2 separate regions of the Homo sapiens genome follow, and region 2 is linked to region 1. A link means that fine-mapping ties the variant in region 1 to the expression of a gene that starts in the linked region. Tissue or cell type: whole blood. Region 1 holds a variant in brackets; the other region holds the start of a gene. All regions are shown on one strand. Distances are from middle to middle.

Region 1 (2,681 bases):
AAGGCCTCGAACCCCGTGAACGGCTTCTCGTTGGAGTAGTCGGAGCGGAAGGTAATGTCCAGGCTGGAGCCCAGCGAGTAGAAAGTGTCCTTGCCAGGGGCCCGCTCCGTGTCTGTGCTCTCCTGCCCGCACAGCGTGGCCAGCACCTTGGCCCCCGAGCTCAGCTGTGGGGTCAGGTGTCACAGGGAGTGAAGGCAAGACCCAGGCCTGATCTCCCTCCTGGCCAAGCCTGGCCCCTGCTCCCAGGTGTCCCTGAACCCTGGCTACTCCTTGGGGACCCCCCGACCCTGAGAAACCCCAGCCCTCCCGTCCTGACGGCACCTTGACGAAGTCGTACTCGCAGAGGTGGGAGAGCTCCAGGTCGAAGTGGGTGAAGTAGAGGCGCAGGCGGTAGCCGGGGGGTGCAGTCAGGGTCCAGCGCCGCTCCTGGTCATTGGCATACTCCCCTGGAAAGCCGGGGGATGCCAGGCGCCCGAACACAGGTTCAGGCCACTTCGGGCCCAAGGGGGTGGCCACCGAGCCACACAGAAGGCCCAGGAGGGTCAGCAGCCTATGGGCAGGGCAGGGGCGGTGAGGGCCCAGGCCTGTGCTCCCACCCCACACCCTGCAGGGAGGCTGTGGGCGCCCACCTACCTCATGGTGTGCCCGTCCAGCTGGCCTGGCCTGGTCTGCAGCCCTACGCTGGTCTCACCTTTGATCTGTTTGTCCAGTGACCTGCCCCTGCCCCCAGCCTCCCTGACTCTGGGATTCTGGGAATCGACTCCATGACTCCAGCCTGCTCAGAGTTCCAGGCAGGCAGGACAGGCTGCTCTGGGAGCCAGGAGTCGGACCTAGGTAACAACAGCCTGGAAACAAATCCTGGCTCTGCCCCTCACCCCTCCCTTTTTTTTGGATCTTGTTCTGTTGCCCCGGCTTCAGTGCAGTGCTGCAATCATAGCTCACTGCAGCCTCTACTTCCTGTGTTCAAGCAATCCTCCCACCT[C/T]AGCCTCCCAAGTAGCTGGGATTACAGGCGAGCACCACCACACCTGGCTAATTTTTTATTTTTGGTAGGGATGGGGTTTCTCCATGTTGGTCAGGCTGGTCTTGAACTCCTGCCCTCAGGTGATCCACCTGCCTTAGCCTCCCAAAGTGCTGGGATTACAGGTGTGAGCCACCGTGCCCAGCCTCAGGCTGGCTAATTTCTTAAACCCTGTCAGAAGGACCTGGTGCCACCAATTCCCGATTCCCTTGCAGGCTTAGAAGTCGCTTTTGGCTGGGCTCGGTGGCTTATACCTGTAATCCCAGCACTTTGGGAGGCCAAGGTGGGTGGATCACGAGGTTGGGAGTTTGAGACCAGCCTGACCAACATGGTGAAATCCCATCTCTACTAAAAATACAAAAATCATCCAGGTGTGGCAGCGCGCACTTATAATCCCAGCTACTCGGGAGGCTGAGGCAGGAGAATTGCTTGAGCCTGGGAGGCGGAGGTTGCAGTGATCCGAGATCGCACCACTGCACTCCAGCCTGGACGACAGAGTGAGACTCCACCTCAAAAAAAAAAAAAAAAAAAAAGAAGTTGCTTTCCAGGCAGTTATTTCACACCTGTTTATCTGTTCTTCCAGCTTCCAGAACTTTGAGGCTGCTGCTTCCTCTTCCACACTCTGTCCTCATGGATTCATGTCTTGTCTTTTTTTTTTTTTTATCCCCTTTATATTTGTTTTTGTTTTTTGTAGAGATGGGGGTCTCCCTGTGTTGCCCAGGCTGGTCTTGAACTCCTGAGCCAAAGCGATGCACCTGCCTCAGCCTCGCAAAGTGCTGGGATTACAGGTGTGAGCCACCAAACCTCTGCCTCCGGGGTTCGAGCAATTCTCCTGCCTCAGCCTCCCGAGTAGCTGGGATTACAGGCATGCGCCACCACGTCCGGCTAGTTTTGTATTTTTAGTAGAGACGGAGTTTCTCCATGTTGGTCAGGCTGGTCTCGAACTCCCAACCACAGGTGATCCACCCGCCTCAGCCTCCCAAAGTGCTGGGATTACAGGCGTGAGCCACCATGCCTGGCCTATTTTCTTTTAGAGACCGGGACTCTGGCTGGGTGTAGTGACTCCTGCCCATAATCCCAGGAGGCTGGGAGGCTGAGGCAGGTGGGTCGCCTGAGACCGGGAGTTCAAGACCAGCTTGGGCAACATAGCAAGACCTTGTCTCTAAAAAAAAAAAAAATTTTTTTAAATTAGCCAGGCATGGTGGCATGCACCTTTAGTCCCAGCTACTTGGCAGGCTGAGATGGGACAATCGCTTGAGCCCAGGAGGTCTCAAGGTTGCAGTGAGCCATGTTCATGCCATTGAACTCCAGCCTGGGTGACAGAGTAAGATTTTGTCTCAAAAAATACATACATAGCAATAATAATAATGCAAGAAAATTTCCCAGAACTGAAGAACGTGATACTGATCGAAAGTGTGCCCCAAGTGCCCAGAAAAGGAGATAAAAATATTAATACAGCTTTACACATATTTAAAAACACTGGAGAGAATAATTATGTTTTACAAACAAAGAGAAAGAGAAAAATCAAATAGTAAATCACATGCAAAAGATCAGGAAAAAGAATTATTTTGGAGTTAAACCTCATCTCTACTAAAAATACAAAACTTAGCTGGGCATGGTGTTGCGTGCCTGTAATCCCAGCTACCTGGAAGGCTGAGGCAGG
Region 2 (2,681 bases), 52 kb after region 1:
AAGCTTATCCTAGATCCTTGGACGACAAATTTATAACAGCTACTATCTAAAACTGGATTTGTGTTTATTGTTCAGTTAGTGTCAAGTGGTTCTCTATTTTAACTGTTGTGAGGTAACGAAAAAAAGCCGTGAAGTGACATAAATGATGGCTGATCATGTGAAGGCCTAAAACGTCATTGTGAGTTTTGTGAATAAACATTTCCCAAGAAAAAAGCAGAGAAAGGAGGTGGGAAATTAAGTCACGGAGGGGAACATGGTAGCTTATGAGCATGACCGCCACACAACCAGGACCACAGTTAGTGGTCCAGGAACTATTGAGAGCCATGTTAATGAATCAATAGCATTAGCTAACAGCAAATTAGATAAGATACAACGTTAGTGGAATTTCTGTAAATTTATAGGGTTAATTTACAAATTATTTTAGTTTCATTGCTTTGTAAGAGCTATGCACACCTTAAGCCTAGTTGTACGTTTGCTCATATTTAAGCTAAGTTATACAAAGATCTTAAGTGAACGCCCTGTATACCTTCCAGGAGTTACTAATAAACGTGCAATGGGGCTTTAACAGGTGACATTTAACTCAGGGTTAAAAATTATGTAGGACTGGACTTCAGAAACAGAGGAAGAGAAGGGCCATACTGGCCGCGGGAGGAGACAACTCCAGGCAAGTGTGGGGAGCGCGAAGAAGCCGAGCCCCTGCGGAGAGCTGGTCGGGTGGCTAGGGCGTGGCGAGCGCGACGTCGCAAGGGCTAGGGACGTCTGGGTGGCAAGGAAGCCTTTCCCAGGATGCGAGACGGCTTTCCACATTTGGGCCTCCATGGACTTAGGCTCGCAAGCGGGACGCCCCTCAGTGTCCGTTTCCGAGGCCCCATCCCCGGAGGGTGCAGGAGAGTCTGCGCCCAGCGCGGACAGGGGCCCCGCGACCCTCGCTCGGGCTCCACTACGGCGGGCGGGCATTGGCTGCCCAGAGGGCCCAGTCGGCTTCCGGCGGCCGCGGGCGACTCCTGGTACCCCCGAGGCCCCGCGAACTCACCTTCACAAAGCTGTCGGCGTCCGGGAAGCCTGGCAGCACCATCTCTCCGTCGGATTTGGTTGCGCTGGTCGCCGACAGGACCCTGGGCTCCCGGGTACTGGGTGGCGCCATTTTTTCAGCCTGCACGGCTCGTCTCGCGAGAGCTTGTCGGCCGAGGAGACGGGACGCGTGCGCACCACGCATGCGCCAGGTCGAAGCGGCGGGCGGGGCGTCTGATTATAGTGTGGGGAGCCTGCGATTGGGGTGGGGCGCCTGCGATTAGGTTGGGAAGCCTGCGTTTAGGGTGGGGCACCTGCGATTAGGTTGGGAAGCCTGCGATTAGGTTGGGAAGCCTGCGATTAGGGTGGCACTTTCGAGCGCTCTGGTGTGAATTTCACGTTCTTTTACCTCATATTGTATCATCCCAACAACCCTGTGATCTAGGGTGCGGCCTGGAGGACCTGACTATCACATATATTTTTGACACGAGGTTTGCCCAATCTGGTTTCGAACTCTTGGGCTCAAGAGATCCTCCCACCTTAGCCTGCGAAGTAGCAGGGACCCCAGGCGAGGGCCACGATCCCCGCTTATCCTCGTGTTTATTTAAAAATTTAAAAAACAAACAAACCGGGATTACCGGGAGTGGTGGTGCGCATCTGTAGTCCCAGCTGCTCGGGAGGCTGAGGTGGGATGGTTGCTTGAGCCGAGGAGGTGGAGGCTCCACTGCACTCCAGCCGGGGTGACAGGATGAAACCCTGTCTCAAAAATTTCTTTTTAAGGTTATGTTTTTGAGGCTGGGCGCCGTGACTCACACCTGTAATCCCAGCACTTTAGGAGGCCGAGGCGGGTGGATCACCTGAGGTCGGGAGTTGGAGACCAGCCTGGCCAACATGGTGAAACTCTGTCTATACTAAAAACACAAAAATTAGTCGGGCGTGGTGGCACATGCCTGTAATCCCAGCTACTCGGGAGGCTGAGGCTTGAGCCCGGGAGGTGGAGGTTACAGTGAGCCGAGATCGAACCACTGCATTCCAGCCTGGGCAACAGAGTGAGACCTTGTCACAAACAAACAAAAAAAACCATGTTTTTGGGACAAAGTTTCACTCTTGCTCTCCCAAAGTGCTGGGATTACAGATACGAGTCATCAGCGTGCAGCCTATTTTTATTTTTATTTTTTTTGAGATGGAGTCTCACTCTGTTGCCCAGGCTGGAGTGCAGTGACGCAATCTTGGCTCACTGCAACCTCCCGCCTCCCGGGTTCAACGAATTCTCTTGCCTCAGCCTCCCGAGTAGCTGGGATTACAGGCGTGCACCACCACGCTCGGCTAATTTTTTTCGTATTTTTAGTAGAAACGGGGTTTCACCATATTGGCCAGGCTGGTCTCGAACTCCTCACCTTGTGATCCTCCCGCCTCGACCTCCCAGAGTGCTGGGATTACAGGCGGAGCCACCGTGCCTGCCCTGTTTATTTTTTTTTTTTGAGACAGAGTCTCACTCTGCTGCCCAGGCTGGAGTGCAGTGGTGCAATCTCAGCTCACTGCAACCTCCGCTTCCTAGGTTCAAGTAGCTGGGATTACAGGCGTGTGCCACAATGCCCGGCTAATTTTTTTTTTTTTTTTGTATTTTTAGTAGAGATGGGGTTTCACCATGTTGGCCAGGCTGGTCTTGA

The links. PIP is the estimated chance that this variant, and not a neighbour inherited with it, causes the effect.
Region 2: it holds the start of EXOSC10, and the variant in region 1 is fine-mapped to the expression of EXOSC10 in whole blood (TOPMed, PIP 0.97).

Annotation. Positions count from the first base shown.
Region 1 is chr1:11,046,570-11,049,250 of GRCh38, forward strand. It overlaps MASP2 (MBL associated serine protease 2), which reads right to left and starts at 670. Exons shown (of 11, transcript NM_006610.4): 1 at 634-670; 2 at 322-550; 3 at 1-164. The coding sequence starts at 638. RefSeq lists an enhancer at 1-7. The variant C/T (reference allele first, on the strand shown) is at 983.
Region 2 is chr1:11,098,688-11,101,368 of GRCh38, forward strand. It overlaps EXOSC10 (exosome component 10), which reads right to left and starts at 1,182. Exons shown (of 25, transcript NM_001001998.3): 1 at 1,034-1,182. The coding sequence starts at 1,144. EXOSC10-AS1 (EXOSC10 antisense RNA 1) reads left to right here and starts at 988. Exons shown (of 2, transcript NR_135062.1): 1 at 988-1,127. RefSeq lists enhancers at 348-910, 562-621, 911-1,471 and a silencer at 523-724.